3 linked regions of the Homo sapiens genome follow. The protein of the gene in region 2 purifies or fractionates together with the protein of the main gene of each other region. This does not show direct contact. Each region holds a gene or a part of one and is shown on either strand. Other genes may lie near its edges.

Region 1 (7,128 bases), on a different chromosome or scaffold from region 2:
TGTATATGTACATATGTGTATATATGTATATATGTGTATATGTACATATGTGTATATGTGTATATGTACATATGTATATATACATATGTGTATATGTACATATGTGTATATATACATATGTGTATGTGTACATATGTGTATATATGTGTGTATATGTACATATGTGTATATATGTATATGTACATATGTGTATATGTGTGTATATGTACATATGTGTATATATGTGTATGTGTACATATGTGTATATGTACATATGTGTATATATGTATATATGTGTATATGTACATATGTGTATATATGTGTGTATGTACATATGTGTATATGTATATATACATATATGTGTATATACACATATGTGTATATGTATATATACATATATGTGTGTGTATATATGTATATATGTGTGTATATATGTATATATGTATATATGTGTGTATATATGTATATATGTATATATGTGTGTATGTATGTATATATGTATATATGTGTGTATGTATGTATATATGTATGTATATGTGTATATATGTGTGTGTATATATGCATATATGCATATATGTATATATATGTATATACGTATATATATATATATATATGCAAAAAAAACCTATCAAACAACAACTACAACAACAACAACCCAAAAAACAAAAAGGCAGGACAGGGCTTTGGTGAGGGCTGGATGGGAGGCAGCCTCAGGGCAGGTGCAGGGGCGGGGCCAAGAGTGAGGGGGCAGGGCCTTAGGCAACGGTTGGCTCAGAGGCACGGTCAGATTCAGGACAGGCAGTCTAGTCAGGTGGGAAAGGATGGGTAGGGGGGTCACTGAGTAAGGGGAAGGCTGGAGGCCATGTCAGAGCCAAAATGGTGCAGTCGCTTAGGAGGGGAGGGGAGGAGAGGCGGGGTCAGGGATGTGGGAGGGGTCTTCGCACCAAGTGGGGGTGGAGTCAGAGAGGGGGCGGGGTTAGGAGAAACAGAAAATGGGAGAAGGCCTAGGATGAGGGAGAGCCAGGGCATGGCTGGTTTGTGCTGGGCTGGGCTGGAGTCACAGGCGCGCACCCCTGGGTGCGCCCACCTTGCGCTCCATGCGCTCGTTCTCCAGTTTCTTCTCCTCGGCGCGCTTCTTGCACTCACTTATGTAGCGTTCCCGCTTCTTGCGCTCTCGAACCAAGGTCTCCTCTAGGTACTGCAGCTGGTTCTGGAGGGCGGGCAGGGTAGCAGGGAGACCAGCTGGCACCTACCACTGCCCGCCGCAGGGTGCTGGGAGATAGATGGGGGCGGGGGCGTAGGGGAAGCTCAGGGACAGCTGAGGTCAGATTCTCAAGCTGGGAGACCGCGGCAGCTGGGCAGGATGGCCGAGGGCAAGAGGGGTGGCACCTTGGCAATGTCCCGGGCATTGAGGGCCTCTTGGTTCACCACGTGCAGTGCCTCCAGCTCATGTTTGGTCCTCACCACCTCAGCCTCCATGGAGTCCAGCCGGTTCTCCAAGTTGAGGCTCTCGTCCTGGGGCGTGGTGGGGAGGGGTAGCGGAGATGGTGCAGGTCTGTGACTGCTGTCCCTAGCCAAGCCCGCCCTCCCTGTTTGTCATCTCACCCGAGCCCTCCTAGTCCCTACCATTAGATAGGCCTTGAGCTGCAGGTACACGCTGGTAATGTGCTCGGCCTCCTGCGCCTTCATCTGGGCCTTCTCCAGGCGGTTCTCCAGGTTCCGCATGGTCTGGAGAGCAGCAGGGCTGGGCTGAGGGCCCTCCGCACTCAATCCCTCCCACACGACCCTCTGCCCTGCAGGCCTCACCCGCCCCTACCTTGGCCACCTCCGTGTGTCTGTTTTGCGCCTCCGCCATCTCCAGAAGGCGCAGGCTGTGCTGCAGCTGGAGCTCCTCCAGCCGCCTCTGCCGCAACACCACCTGGTGCCGCAGGGCGTTCTGCTGCTTCACCTTCTCCCTCAGCCGGTGGTCTAGGTGCTCCAGGGCCTGCCGCAAGGAGGGGAGCGAAAGCAGGAGCCTCAACACCCTACCCCGACACACACCTAGCCCTTCCTCCCTTCCTTCTCCCACACTGTGGCTTCCAGGACTCCCCTCTCCCGTTTTCTACCCACCTCCCTGGCCACCCCTTCTGTGTTGTTTTTGTAGAGAGAGCACCGGAGTCTTCTCTCTGTCTATATCGACCACCTTGGCGATCTTACACCGGCTCAGGGTTCTAAAAAAATATTTTTAAATTTTTCTTTCTTTCGTTTTTTTTTTTTTAGACGGAGTCTTGCTCTGACACCCAGGCTGGAGTGCTGTGGTGCAATCTCGGCTCACTGCAACCTCCTCCTCCTGGGTTCACGCCATTCTCCTGCCTCAACCTCCCGAGTAGCTGGGATTACAGGTGCCCACCACCACGCCTGGCTAATTTTTGTTTTTGTTTTCTTTTCTTTTTTTTTTTTTTTTGAAACGGAGTCTCGCTCTGTCGCCCAGGCTGAAGTGTAGTGGCACGATCTCGGCTCACTGCAACTTCCATCTCCTAGGTTCAAGCAATTCTCCTGCCTCAGCCTCCCAAGTAGCTGGGATTACAGGCATGTGCCACTACACCCGGCTAATTTTTGTATTTTGGGTAGAGACAGGGTTTCACCACGTTGACCAGGCTGGTCTCAAACGCCTGACTTCAGGTGATCCACCTGCCTCGGCCTCCGAAAGTGCTGGGATTACAGACGTGAGCCACCTCACCCAGCTATCTTCTGGCCATTTTTTTCTTTTAAAAAATGTTTTAGGCTGGGCGCGGTGGCTCCCGCCTGTAATCCCAGCACTTTGGGAGGCCAAGGCGGGTGGATCACGAGGTCAGGACATCGAGACCATCCTGGCTAACACGGTAAAACCCCGTCTCTACTAAAAATACAAAAAATTAGCCGGGCATGGTGGCAGGCGCCTGTAGTCCCAGCTACTCAGGAGGCTGAGGCAGAAGAATGGCGAGAACCCGGGAGGCGGAGCTTGCAGTGAGCCAAGATCGTGCCACTGCACTCCATACTGGGCGACAGTGCGAGACTCTGTCTCAAAAAAAAAAAAAAATTATAGAGGCAGGGTCTCGCTATGTGGCTCAGGCTGGTCGCGAATTCCTGGGCCCAAGCCATCCTCCTTCCTCGGCCTCCCAAAGTGCTGAGATTACAGGCAAGAGCCACTGCACCCAGCCCAGTTTTGTTTTGTTTTGTTTTTTGAGATGGGGTCTCACCCTGTCACTCAGGCTGGAGTGCAGTGGCTCGATCTTGGCTCACTGCAACCTCCGCCCCTTGAGCTCAAGTGATCCTTCCTCCTCAGCGTCCTCAGTTGCTGGGACCACAGATGCATGCCACGACGCCTGGGTACGTTTTTGTATTTTTGGTAGAGACAGGGTTTCATCATGTTGCCCAGGCTGGTCATGAACTTCTGAGCTCAAGTGATCCACCTGCCTTGGCCTCCCAAAGTACTAGGATTACAGACGTGAGCCATCACGCCCAGCCTTTTAATTTTTATAATTATTTTTTCAGACAAGGCCTTGCTTTGTCACCCGGACGGGAGTGCAGTGGCACGAACATGACTCACTGCAGCCTCGACCTCCCCAGTTCAGGTGATCCTCCCACCTCAGCCTGGCAAGTAGCTGGGACTACAATCCTGTGCCACCACATTTGGCAAATCTTCTGTATTTGTTGTAGAGTCAAAGTTTCACTATGTTGGCAGGCTGGTCTCAAACTCTTGGGCTCAAGTGATCCTCCAGCCTTGGCCTCCCAAAGTGCTGGTATTACAAGGCATGAGCCACCATGCCTAGACTGTGTTTTATTTTTTATTTATTTATTTATTTATTTATTTATTTATTTATTTATTTTGAGACAGAGTTGCCCAGGCTGGAGTGCAATGGCATGATCTCGGCTCACAGCAACCTCCACCTCCCGGGTTCAAGGGATTCTCCTGCGTCAGCCTCCTGAGTAGCTGGGATTACAAGCATGCACCACCATGCCCGGCTAATTTTTTGTATTTTTAGTAGAGACGGGGTTTCGCCATGTTGGCCAGGCTGGTCTCAAACGCCCGACCTCAGGTGATCCGCCCGCCTCAGCCTCCCAAAGTGCTGGGATTACAGGCGTGAGCCACCGCGCCCGGCCTTTAATTTTTTATCTTTTGTTTTTGTTTGTTTGTTTGTTTTTGTTTTTTTGAGACAGAGTCTCGCTCTGTCACCCAGGTTGGAGTGCAGTGGCACCAGTCTCAGCTCACTGCAAGCTCCGCCTCCCGGGTTCAAACTGTTCTCCTGCCTCAGACTCCTGAGTAGCTGGGACTACAGGCGCCCACCACCATGCCTGGCTAATTTTTTGTATTTTTATTTTTATTTTATTTTTTATTTATGTATTTATTTTTGAGACAGAGTCTCACTCTGTCGCCCAGACTGGAGTGCAGTGGTGCGATCTCAGCTCACTGCAACTTCTGCCTCTTGGGTTCAAGCAATTCTGTGCCTCAGCCTCCTGAGTAGCTGGGATTACAGGTGCCTGCCACCACACCTGGCTAATTTTTGTATTTTTAGTAAAAACAGGGTTTCACCATCTTGGCCAGGCTGGTCTAGAACTCCTGACCTTGTGATCCACCCACCTCGGCCTCCCAAAGTGCTGGGATTACAGGCATGAGCCACCGCGCCCGGCCTTTTGTATTTTTAGTAGAGACGGGGTTTCACCGTGTTAGCCAGGATGGGCTCGATCTCCTGACCTCGTGATCCACCCGCCTCGGTTTCCCAAAGTGCTGGGATTACGGGCGTGAGCCACCGCGCCCAGCCTTTTTTTTTTTTTTTTTTAAAGAAACAGGTTGTACTGTCACTCAGGCTGGAGTGCAGTGGTGCAATTGTGGCTCATTATAGTCTCAAACTTCTAGGCTCATGCAATCCTCCAGCCTCAGCCTCCTGAATAGCTGGGATTACAGGCATGTGCCACTGGTCATTGTTTTCGTTTGTTTGTTTTGAGACTGAGTCTCACTCTGTCTCCCAGGCTGGAGCACAGTGGCACAACCTCAGCTTACTACAACCTCTGCCTCTTGGGTTCAATGACTTTTAAAATGTTTTATTTTTTTTAATTATTTTTATTTTATTTATTTTTTGAGACGGAGTTTCGCTCTTGTTGCCCAGGCTGGAGTGTAATGGCACAATCTCGGCTCACTGCAACCTCTGCCTCCCGGGTTCAAGCGATTCTCCTGCCTCAGCCTCCCGAGTAGCTGGGATTACAGGCACGTGCCATCATGCCCAGCTAAGTTTTGTATTTTTAGTAGAGACAGGGTTTCTCCATGTTGGTCAGGTTGGTCTTGAACTCCCGACTTCAGGTCATCTGCCCGCCTTGGCCTCCCAAAGTGCTGTGATTACAGACGTGGGCCACCGCGCCTGGCTGTGATGTTTTTTTTTTTAACTTGTTTTCCCTATTAGGATATGAGCTGTTTTTAGAAGTGGAGACTTGGTCTGCTTTTTCACTGCATTTACTACCATGCCAGGATGCCAGATACAAGGAAAGTGAGTAATAAAGATTTAATTGAATGAGCACATGAATGGCAGCTAGTGTGCAGGAAGGATTGGAGAGGGTGAGCCTGGAGTCCAGTGGTGAGGGGACCCAGGCTGGAAATGAAGGAGGAGGTGGGGCGAGGGTGGGCAAACCTGTCCTGTCCTGTTCTTCAGGTATGGCTTCTCCCACTTCCATTCGCGAATCACTGCCTGGACCACTTTCTCATCTCCCTGCAAGGAGGGAAGTCCAGTCACCTTTCAGCATGCCACCTCCAGCTAAGGCCAGGTGCTACCTACTTGTCCCCCACCATCCACCGCCACGGGAACCCTACACCCACCCCTTTGCCCCTTACCTTGAGCAGGTCCAGCAGCTTTAGTTCCAGTGCCTTAGTCTCCTTGCGGAGCTGACTGATGGTCTCCTGGTTCTTCTTGATGTTCCACTGAGAGCTCTCAAAAAAAGCCTTCCGGTCACCCTCTGGCAGGCAGGTGAGGTGGACAGACACACAGTTACTGGGTGGGTGCATGGGTGCAACATCCCAGAGGAAAGACCTTTTTTGCAATCATCAACTTTTTTTTTTTTTTTGAGATGGAGTTTCACTCTTGTTGCCCAGGCTGCAGTGCAATGGTGCAATCTCGGCTCACCACAGCCTCCGCCTCCCGGGTTCAAGAGATTCTCCTGCTTCAGCCTCCCAAGTAGCTGGGATTACAGGCATGTACCACCACACCTGGCTAATTTTGTATTTTTAGTAGACATGGGGTTTCTCCATGTTGGTCAGGCTGGTCTCGAACTCCTGACCTCAGGTGTTCCCAAAGTTCTAGGCCCCCTAAAGTCCTAGGATTATAGGTGTGAGCCACTGTGCCAGGCTCATCAACTTAATATTATAAGAATGCAGTCGTTGACCAGCCTGGCCAACATGGTAAAACCGCATCTCTACTAAAAATACAAAAATTAGCCAGGTGTGAGGCTGAGCATGATGGCTCGTTCCTGTAATCCTTGCACTTTGGGAGGTAGAGGCGGGCGGATCACCTGAGGTCAAGAGTTCAAGATCAGCCTGGCCAACATGGTGAAACCCCATCTCTACAAAAATACAAAAATTAGCTGGGCATGGCCGGGCACGGTGGCTCACGTCCATAATCCCAGCACTTTGGGAGGCCAAAGTGAGCGGATCACGAGGTCAGGAGATCGAGACCATCCTGGCTAACATAGTGAAATCCCGCCTCTACTAAAAATACAAAAAAAAAAAAAAATTAGCCGTGCATGGTGGCAGGCACCTGTAGTCCCAGCTACTCAGGGGACTGAGGCAGGAGAATGGTGTGAACCTGGGAGGCAGAGCTTGCAGTGAGCCGAGATCGCACCACTGCACTCCAGCCTGGGTGACAGAGCGAGACTCTGCCTCAAAAAAAAAAAAAAAAAAAAATTAGCCGGGCATGATGGTGGGTGCCTGTAATCCCAGCTACAGGAGGCTGAGGCACAATAATTACTTGACCTCTGGAGGTGGAGGTTGCATTGAGCTGAGATCCTGCCACTGCACTCCAGCCTGGGCAACAGAGCAAGACTCTGTCTCAAAAAACAAAACAAAACAAAACAAAAAACCCCAAAATCCTTCCATACTCAAGTCCCACAGTCAGCCCTGTGGAACCTGCAGATACAAACAGTTGT
Region 2 (2,912 bases):
GACCTTAAAGTGTACTGCAAAGCTGTAGCTTTAAGTAATTGCTGTTCTGCCACTGCTTACTCTGAAATCTACCATCAAAGAAAGATAGAGAAAAGGGGCTGAGCCTTGGAATATATGGTTATAAGCAGATCTTTCTTTGGTCAGAGACCAGGGTTTGAGCCAAGGCTGTAAATGTGAACAATAGCTGTGCAAAGCCTTTTAACCTGACTTCTTCATTTTGTAAATTATTATGCATTAAGTAGCAGCCCAATAATCTGATTTCTAGTTTTATTTTCAAAGTAAGTAGCTTCTTTTGGGAAAAACCTAAGTTAAACTAGTAGTTTTGCCATAATAACTGCTGATTTATGTATTTGCTAAAGGTACTTTTGTATCTGCTGTGTATTATAGCAATAAAATAATCATTTTGTTAGAAAAAAATCACCTGGTGTTCTTTTGTAATACACTGATCTGTTACAAACATCATCTTTCTGAATTCTGCATTGTTACATAACAAGCCCTACGCTTTAAACCTTTCTGTGTTCCCTGTTGGTAAGGGAAATGCCAGCTCCCTCTTAGAGTCGAGAGGGAAAGAGAAAAGAGAAAAACTGTTAAAAATGTTTTTATTTTTTAGTAAGCAAAATTTTACGAAAAGTCAGATTCACCCGTGGAGCCAGAACCTTCTTTCTCACGGGAAGACTGTGGTACCAGTGCGTGTTGGTCGGGTGGTTCATCATTAGTAAGCTCCCGTGGGCCAGCGGCAGCCTGACCACCGCCACCCTCCTGGAGGGGCTTTTCCCACGGGAATCCTTATGCCGGAAGACAAAGTCTCTGCAGGCACCGAAGGAGACAGAGGCAATGGGGCTCCCAGGGGCCAGTTCTCTTTCATCATCTCGGTGCTCCCCGATGTGGTCACAGCCATCTTTATACCTGCAATGAGAAAACAAACACAGTGCATAAAAACAACCCTCTCCTGAAACTCACCAGCACCGCCAGCCCTCGTTTTCCTCACAGTGTGAAACAGCACTCTGCATGGCTGTACCTGCCGTTGTTTCTGCGAGGGCTTGAGGTCCACAGTGGGCTCTAAGATAAGCCAACGCTGAAGAGGTCTGTTGACGTATTTGTTCATGTGACTTATTTATTATTATTTTTGAGAGGGTCTCGCTCTGTCACCCAGGCTGAAGTGCAGTGGCACAATCATAGCTCACTGCAGCCTCGGCCTCCTGGGCTCAAGTGATTCTCCCACTTCAGCCTCCCAAGTAGCTGGGACTATAGGTATGCACCACCCCACCTAGCTAATTTCTTTTCTTTTGCAGAAACAGTTTCACCATGTTACCCAGGCTGGTCTCAAACTCGGGCTCAAGCAATTCACTCTCCTTGGCCTCCCAAAGTGTTGGGATTACAGGCATGAGTCACCACGTCCGGCCAGTTCATGTGCTTTAAAACTGAAGACACCCAAAGCCAAAATCACGTCTTACTGTAGTTCCCCTGGCCAGTCTATGTAAACCTTTATCACATGATTTTGCCCTGCACTCAAAGGCCATACTCTGCATAGCCCGGCCCCTGCCCACTGCTGAGCTCATGCCATCCCCTTCTTTCCCTCATTCACTGCTTTCCGGCCATCCTGCAGCATTTTTGCTTCACAGACACTCCAGAGTCCCTCTGCTCTCCCTCCAGATGTCTGTGGCTGGCACTCTCCATTTAGTTATCAGCTCAAACGCACTGCCTCAGCCCTCCTCTAACCACCCCATCTGAAGTGACCTTCCCTTAAACCCACCCAGGGTTCTCCACCAGGGTGATTCTGCCCCAGGGGACAGGTATTGGGGGGTGGGGGACACTACTTGCAATCTAGTGGATGGAGGCCAGGGATCTGCTCAACATCCTGCAAGGCACAGGTCAGCCCCAACAACAACGAATGACTGGGCCCAAAATGTCTGCAGTGCTGCCGTTGAGAAACCTTGCCCTAATCGCAAACCTCTCAGCCATTCTCAGTCAAATCGGCCTGTTTAATTTTTTGCAAGATGGTTATCACTGTCTGAAATCGTCTAGGGTCAGGCATAGTCGTTCACGCCTGTAATCCCAGCACTTTGGGAGGCTGAGGTGGGAGGATCGCTTGAGCCTAGCAGTTTGAGACCAAGCCTGGGCAACATAGAAAAACCCTGTCTCAAAAAAAAAAAAGAAAGAAAAAGAGAAGAAGAAATTATCTCATTCAGCTGTTTGTTCAGGAGTTAATCACCTCTCACTTCCTACTCCGGGATGAGCTCCAGGATCCAGGAAGACCGAGTGCTGGCGCTATTCCACTCTTAGAGCCCCAGTGTACTAAGAAATGATTTGTACCAATGAACCAAATAGGGTGGAACCCTAAACACTTCCTTTTGGAGGAGACAGAAGACTTGTAACATTGAGTCCACTAAACAGGGTGTCACCTGTTGATGAGCACAAAGTTGAAGGTCTGTCCAGTCACCCCAGAGACGTGATCCCGGATGCGCTCTAGAACTGGGATCCAGGGCTTTGGAGACAGCGTGAGGCCTGAAAATGTGTAGGTCAGCCCAGCGTCGCCATACGTTGCCTGCTTCCTGGGCACACTGTGCCACTTCCCGAATACCTGGACTCTGGCCAGTGCTCCTGTGCAGAGGAAACATGGCAGTTCCTTTCTACCTGACCCCCATCTAGAAATCCAGATGCCCCCCCCAACCCGCACTGCCATCACCAGAAATCCAGTGCCCCACATACATGCTCCCTGGGTATTCAAGATTGAAAGGGAAGTAAGGAATAACATTTCCCCGTCATTCCATGCAATTTAAACCCCTCTTCAATCATCATTTTGGCTTGCCCCAAATTTTCTTTTTGTTTTGTTTTCTTTGAGACAGGGTCTCCCTGTGTCACCCAGGCTGGAGTACAGTAGCACAATCTCAGCGCACTTCAACCTCCACCTC
Region 3 (7,128 bases), on a different chromosome or scaffold from region 2:
AAGTCAGTATGCAACACAAGTGCTTTGTATGTATTTCCTGTGTATCACACAGAATATTAAAAAGATGTGACCTGGGTTGAGCTTTAATAAAATCAATAATGTCTGTTGCTTCATCAAGGACATTCTTAGGCGAAGTGGCATTTTTTTTTTCCTGCAAGTATATGGCAGTGGGGATTGTAATGATGACTAGTATAGTTTGGTGCCTAAATTCGAGTGAAAGCACCAGCACTTTTACCCATTGTTGCTTTTGCACCATCAGTGCAAATGTTAGTCAACACAGTGAAAGATGTCTTAATAGTATGATGAAAATAGTTGTGACCCCATGGGCTTTGGGAACCCTCAAAGATGTCTCCAGATCACACTTTGGGAACGCTGTTCTGAATCCATATTATAAATACAAATTATATGAGTGAGGCTTAAAACTTCAGTGTTTTATTTTAACAAAGTATGCTTGCTTTTAAATTTCAGCAGTTTCCCATCTTTTATGACATTTTTAAAGATTTTTAGGAGAAAATTATAGGCTGAAATAGTCATCAATCTTGCAAGTGACAAATATTTTATTAGGCAAAATGAAAAACAATTCACATCAGGAAAATTGGAAAGAAATCAACTTCACCCATTTTGTTGTTTGATTATGTTTCCTGAAAAATATATTCAGGTCCTAAACTAGACTATAACTCTGAGGGTTCCTAGTACTAAGTGCATGGATCAATTGTTTGTCTAAATAGAGTTTAATCAAATTCTTCTTTAGGCTAGGTTTAATCAAATTCTTTAGGCTGGGTGTGGTGGCTCATGCCTGTAATCCCAATGCTTTGGGAGGCCAAGGCAGGTGGATCACTTGAGGTCAGGAGTTTGAGACCAGCCTGGCCAATATAGTGAAACCCTATCTCTACTAAAAATACAAAAAAATCAGCTGGACGTGGTGCCCCGTGCCTGTAATCCCAGCTACTCAGGAGGCTGAGGCAGGGAGAATCGCTTGAACCTGGGAGACGGAGGTTGCAGTGAGTGGAGATCGCACCACCGCACTCCGGCCTGAGTGACAGAGCAAGACTCTGTCTCAAATATGTATATGTATATATATATACACACATGCACACACACACACACACACACACACACACACACACACACATATATATTCTTCTTTAATAAAGTAGTGAATATTTATTCATTTATTTAAGCAGTACCTACTGAGTACCACTCTTAAGTACCTCCAATGAATCAAACAGACAAAAATCCCTATCTTCATGGACTTCGTATTCTAGTGGGAAGAAACGGACAGTGAACAATAACAACAATAAGTAAATTATACAGCATGTTAGAAAAGTGCAATGGAAAAGAGAGGAAAAGGAGATCAACTATAGGGACACAGGGAAGTGTTGGAAGTCTCAAATGAATGATCAAGATAAGGTTCATTGAGAAGATGAGGAATGAGTTTCAGCTACTTGCGGGGCTGAGGTGGGAGGATCGCTTGAGCTCAGGCAGAGGTTGCAGTGAACCGACATCCTGCCACAGCACTCCAGCCCTGGGTGACAGAGTGAGACCCCATCTCAAGAAAAAAAGAGAGATTAGGAGACATGACAAGCAAATGCAATATGTAGACCTTGTTTGGACCCTTTTTAAAGAAACAAACCAACTGTTAGAAGATTTTTTTTTAATAAATGGGGAACTTTAAGTATAAACTATTAGATGATATTAAGGAATTATTAATGTTTAAATGTGATAAGGTGAAGAGGATGGAAAAAATAGATTGGCAAAATGTTGGTAATTTTGAAATGGGTATATGGTGGTTTGTTTAATGATTATGTCTTCTAATTTCCCATAGCAAGATTTTTTAAAAAGACATTAGTTATAATTTAGAAAAATTTTGAAAAGTGGGGAAATGTATTTGGAAGCACATATAGTCACATATATGTGCACAGTTAGCTGTCCTTATCCATGGGTCTGACATCTTTGGATTCAACTCATCAAAATATTAAATATTTTTTAAAATTGTGTCTATACTGAACATGTGTAGCCTTTTTTTTTTTGTCTTTTTTACTTGCAGACTTTTTTGTATCGTTATTCCCTAAACATTACAATATAACAACTAATTACATTGTATTAGGTATTATAGGTAATCTAGAGATGATTTAAAGTATACGAGAGATTTACATGGGTTATATGCAAGTATTACTCCATTTTATGTAAGGGACTTGAGTATCCTTGGATTTTGGTATCATGGGAGGTCCTGAAACCAATCTCCCACAGATACTTCTATACTTCTCTGTGATCTTAATGAATACTTAAGGAAAAAGTAAAATGTATAAGTTTGAATTTACTCACCCAGTGAGTAGCCATTTAATGTCTTTATATTTTCTTTGTAAAGAAGTAATAGATTAGATTTTGAAATGTGGTTTTCTTTTGGCTAAATTGTAGATTTTCCTTTTTAAAGGAAACAAAAACAGCCTAAGCTTCCTTCAGAGTCTTAGGATATTTGGGTAGATAAAGGTATAATTGACAATTGTCATAAAATAGGCTATTGTCAATACCTTTTTAAAAAATTCTCTTTTTAATATTTTCTTGTAGCACAACAAATCAGAAGCTCTGGGCTGTAGAACTTCAGAAGACAATCTCCAGAGACAACAAGTATGTGCTGCTGGCTTCTGAACAGTTGGTGGGCGTCTGTTTGTTTGTTTTTATCAGACCACAGCATGCTCCTTTTATCAGGTCAGTAAACAGAACACTCCTCTAAGGCTACTTCCTACCATTAAATAACAAGAAAAAAGCCTAGAATGTTTATTGTTTCAGTTCTTCAAACAAAAACTATCCATAGTTCTTGTTTTAAAATGGGGTTTTGGGGGTTTTGATTAAAGACTCACCAATAGCTTCACTGTACTATTTCAAAGGCTTGCCCTCAAAGTACCATACCATGTGTACTTAAATGATTATGTATATTCCTCATTTCCTATGCACATGGAACTCTTGAAATTTCAAATCTGCGATTTAGAATTCTTTGTTTCAAAGGGATGTTGCAGTTGATACTGTGAAGACTGGAATGGGAGGTGCAACTGGAAATAAGGGAGCAGTTGCAATCCGAATGCTCTTCCATACAACCAGCCTTTGCTTCGTCTGTAGCCACTTTGCTGCAGGGCAGTCACAAGTCAAAGAAAGAAATGAAGATTTTATAGAAATAGCACGAAAATTGAGTTTTCCTATGGTAAGCTCTTGCTGCTTGTTCTTGAAGATAAAGCTTTGAAATATATTTTAATTTGCCCCAAATTCTACATCAATGTTTTTGGAAATTTAAGATAGTTCCTAGAAACATTAAGAATATTCACCTAAATAGATATTTCATGAGTATTAACCCAAAATATCTGAGACAGGGCTCAGTCAATTTAGAAAGTTTATTTTGCCAAGGTTAAGGATGTGGCCATGATATAGCCTCCAGAATTCAGAATGACATGTGCCCAAGGTGGTCGGGGGTACAGTTTGCTTTTATACATTTTAGGGAGACCTGAGACATCAGTCAGTATGTGTATGATGTACACTGGTTTGGTCTGGTAAGGCAGGACAACTCGAAGTGGGGGCTTCCAGGTTAGAAGTAGATAAGACGCAAAAGGTTGCATTCTTTTAAGTCCTAGATCAGCCTTCCACTGAATACACAATTTAGTGTGGCTCAGTGAATCTGCATTTTTGCATAAACAATAGGGCAGAGGAAGCAGTCAGATGTGCATTTGTCTCAGGTGAGTCTCAGAGGGATGACTTTGAGTTCAGTCTATACTTTGTCCACAAGGAATTTCCTGTGGGCAAATTGTGAGGGAGTTATGTAGCTTCTTATCTTTGGAGCTATCTTATTTAGGAGTAAAATGGGAGGCAGGTTTACCTGTCATAGTTCCTGGCTTGATTTTTCTCTGGGCTTAGTGATTTTGGGGTCCTGAGATTTATTTTCGTTTCACATGTGTTATTACTGTTGGGTCAAAGAAACAGGACATGGGAGGAGACAAGCATATCTCAGGCAAAGAAATAGTTGTAAAACATTTTTGAACATTGATTGTTTTGAATTTAAAATTCTATCTCATTGCTTTCAGGGAAGGATGCTATTTTCCCATGACTATGTATTTTGGTGTGGTGATTTCAACTATCGAATCGATCTCCCTAACGAAGAAGTTAAAGAGCTCATAAGACAGCAAAATTGGGATTCTCTTATAGCAGGAGATCAACTTATCAATCAGAAAAATGCTGGACAGGTATATCTATACTTGAGAAAATACTTGCATTAAGATTTTGGGTCGTGAAACATGCCTTTTTAAATCAAGATGTTTTAAAATTTTCTTGGGGTCTTTTTGTACTTAAATATGCATCTGTAGGTAAACAGATAATAGAATTATCTTTCCTTAAAGTGTAGCAGGATGAGCTGCAGACAAGAACCCTTCAGACACCAAGTTGTAGAAGGAAAGGGCTTTATTCAGCTGGGAGCAGCAGCGGACTCACGTCTCCAAAAACCGAGCTCCCCGAGTGAGCAATTCCTGTCCCTTTTAAGGGCTTACAGCTCTAAGGGAGTCCATGTGAGAGGGTCGTGATCGATTGAGCAAGCAGGGGGTATGGGACTGGGGGCTGCATGCACTGGTAATCAGAATGGAACAGGACAGGGATTTTCACGATGCTTTTCCATACAATGTCTGAAATCTATAGATAGCACAAGCGGTTAGGTCAAGGGTTGATTTTTAACTACCAGGCCCAGGGCACAGTGCTGGGCTATCTGCCTGTGATTCCATTTCTGCCTTTTAGTTTTCACTTCTTTCTTTGGAGGCAGAAATTGGGCATAAGACAATATGAGGGGTGGTCTCCTCCCTTATTCCCCCCTTTGAGAACTTCACTCATTAATGGGAGTTCTCACTTTCATCCTCATTACCCATGTCTTCTTGCAAGACAGATTGATAGTGATTCATATGGTACACTTGCGCTGAAGCATTTTGGTGAGCTAAGGTAGTGATGAAGCTTTTTATCATTTGAAGAAGTACAAGTAGCAAACAAGGGAGCAGTAAGCAGGTTCCTATTACTATTATAACTCCTATTATAAGAGTTTTAAATCCTCCTAGCACTGGGAACCATTTTTCAAACATGGCCCCCGGATCAAATCCATGCCACACTTGCACAGGCACATGTGTCAGTTTTGTCATATCTCTAATTATGTCTTCAACTACTTGCCCTTCATCATCTGTGTATAGACAGCAATTAGTAAGGTTAAATTTCCCACAGACCCCCACCTTCAGCTGCTAGCAAGTAGTCGAGAGCCAATCTATTTTGATAGATAGCATTTCTCATCTGAGACTCTTGCCAGGGCAGTATAGTCAAGGCTCTGCCAGTTTTATTAGTGATTATTTCTAAGACAGCTTGTAACCGTATGATTCGGTTGAGCATGTAAATGGGGGTCCAGTATCCCCACGAGCCATCTTGTGCCCAAGTAGCAGGTCTGTAATATTGTATGATTCTCTCAGGGGGCCATTCATCATCTTTCCAATTTCCTATAGCTATGCTTCTCTTTTCTCGGGCAGCATAGACAGGGAAACCCAGGAGTTTGCCTGTCTTTATGGGCAGTAGGAAGAAAGATGGTTTAATAGTGCCAATAACACAACTACCTGTCCACTGGTTGGATAATTTGGCACAAGCTCTATGCCCACATATACAGTATAATCCAGTGGGGGCTGTCCAGTCCTGGTGGGACTCCGGATGGGTCCACACGGTTTGCAACTTTGGGAATTTACTAAATGGATTCCTTTCTGTGTGATTTGAACTCCACCAAGTGACTGTTTTTGTGGTACCATTATACAGTTTCTGTCCCAGACAACTAAGTCATCCTACGGGGTGAGTGAATTCTTTTCCTTCTCCAGCTATGCAATATTGTCCAATAATTGAGGTTTTTAGGACCCAGAAATTATCAGGGTGATTCTTTTGAGCTGGGAATTCATCAGGAACTGGGTCTGTAGGTACTAATTCTCGGGCTTCTCGTGGCCATTGATCTCCCATTACAGTTCCTCCACATACATAATGTGAAGCAACATTGAGAGACTAGGCTACATGCTTGGCTAATTGCAAAAACAAATTTCTTGTTTTTCCTGGAATTTCTGGTACTGGCACATTTAGTTCATCATAGAAAGTTTGAAGCACTGGCTCAGGAGAGTGTTTGTAAACTTCTCCTCGAACTAAGATATTTACTCGAGGATCCAGTCCAGCCCCATTGATTCCTAAGGTCACACGCTCCCCTTTTTTCCAGCGAGGATCAAGGGGATTGGTTATTACTAGCTCTAAGGGGTTACATTGTCCCTTAGTACAGGAAGGGCCACTTTTTCCTTTCTGAAGCTGCACTGGATCCTTTTCATTTTTTATCCAAGTGGCCCAAATGACACCAGTATCCACATTGATTTCCACACAGTCCTAATTCATGACAAATATACTTATTTTTGGTCATATAGCCTTTTTCCCAATCAAAAGCCACACCCCTTCCTAACTTATTGCTCTTAATGACAGCACAGGCATCAAATTTCAAGATTATGCGTTTGGGCACCCCTTTTTCTTCTGTTTTGGCTAATACTTGTATCATTTACAAGTCCCCATCAGTCTTCAGTCCTTAATCTTACTTCAAAAACTGTGGACCTGGGAGGCCACAGAGGGATCATAACACACATCTGGGCAGTCGTTTCCTAGGCTACATACCTCGTACTGAGTGTCATTATATAAACACGTTCCTTTTAAAGTTCCTAGGCATTCATAGTAACTATAGAACAGAAAGATTGTTTTAACTTGTTACCCTACCTCAGTAACCTGATGTATACACTGAGAGCAGTCTTCTATGCAGGGAAAATCAGTGGAAGTTTTTACTATACAAGTCCAAATTATAAGGAAAATGAGTCCCACGATGATTCTCCTCATGCCTCGGCCGTGCGTAGACCAGTCAGCTTCCGGGTGTGACTGGAGCAGGGCTTGTCATCCTCCTCAGAGTCACTTTCAGGAGTTGTCTGGGCTCGGTTTTGCCTCCCAAGTTTCAGCAGCTGCAGGTTTCACACGGCTGTGGTGGATCCAGGCTGGGATTCCTTCTCCTTTACAGCCGTGGGGGTGGTCAGGATGATGGTGTGAGGTCTTTTCCAC

What was found.
Region 1: the proteins of ALKBH2 (region 2) and ODAD3 purify together in Homo sapiens (affinity purification with mass spectrometry; 2 studies listed by BioGRID and IntAct, with this or other methods). This does not show direct contact.
Region 3: the proteins of ALKBH2 (region 2) and SYNJ1 purify together in Homo sapiens (affinity purification with mass spectrometry; 2 studies listed by BioGRID and IntAct, with this or other methods). This does not show direct contact.

What each region holds. Positions count from the first base shown.
Region 1 is NC_000019.10:11,425,078-11,432,205, forward strand, and holds part of ODAD3 (outer dynein arm-docking complex subunit 3), read right to left. Parts: intron 5,944-7,128; coding exon 5,822-5,943; intron 5,700-5,821; coding exon 5,622-5,699; intron 1,964-5,621; coding exon 1,796-1,963; intron 1,708-1,795; coding exon 1,606-1,707; intron 1,495-1,605; coding exon 1,369-1,494; intron 1,190-1,368; coding exon 1,067-1,189; intron 1-1,066. UniProt on the Homo sapiens protein: Component of the outer dynein arm-docking complex (ODA-DC) that mediates outer dynein arms (ODA) binding onto the doublet microtubule. Involved in mediating assembly of both ODAs and their axonemal docking complex onto ciliary microtubules.
Region 2 is NC_000012.12:109,087,607-109,090,518, forward strand, and holds the end of ALKBH2 (DNA oxidative demethylase ALKBH2), read right to left. Parts: intron 2,602-2,912; coding exon 2,403-2,601; intron 907-2,402; coding exon 600-906; 3' UTR 583-599; downstream 1-582. UniProt on the Homo sapiens protein: Dioxygenase that repairs alkylated nucleic acid bases by direct reversal oxidative dealkylation. Can process both double-stranded (ds) and single-stranded (ss) DNA substrates, with a strong preference for dsDNA.
Region 3 is NC_000021.9:32,662,014-32,669,141, reverse strand, and holds part of SYNJ1 (synaptojanin-1), read left to right. Parts: intron 1-2,568; coding exon 2,569-2,709; intron 2,710-3,006; coding exon 3,007-3,199; intron 3,200-4,070; coding exon 4,071-4,229; intron 4,230-4,425; exon of another isoform or gene 4,426-7,128. UniProt on the Homo sapiens protein: Phosphatase that acts on various phosphoinositides, including phosphatidylinositol 4-phosphate, phosphatidylinositol (4,5)-bisphosphate and phosphatidylinositol (3,4,5)-trisphosphate. Has a role in clathrin-mediated endocytosis.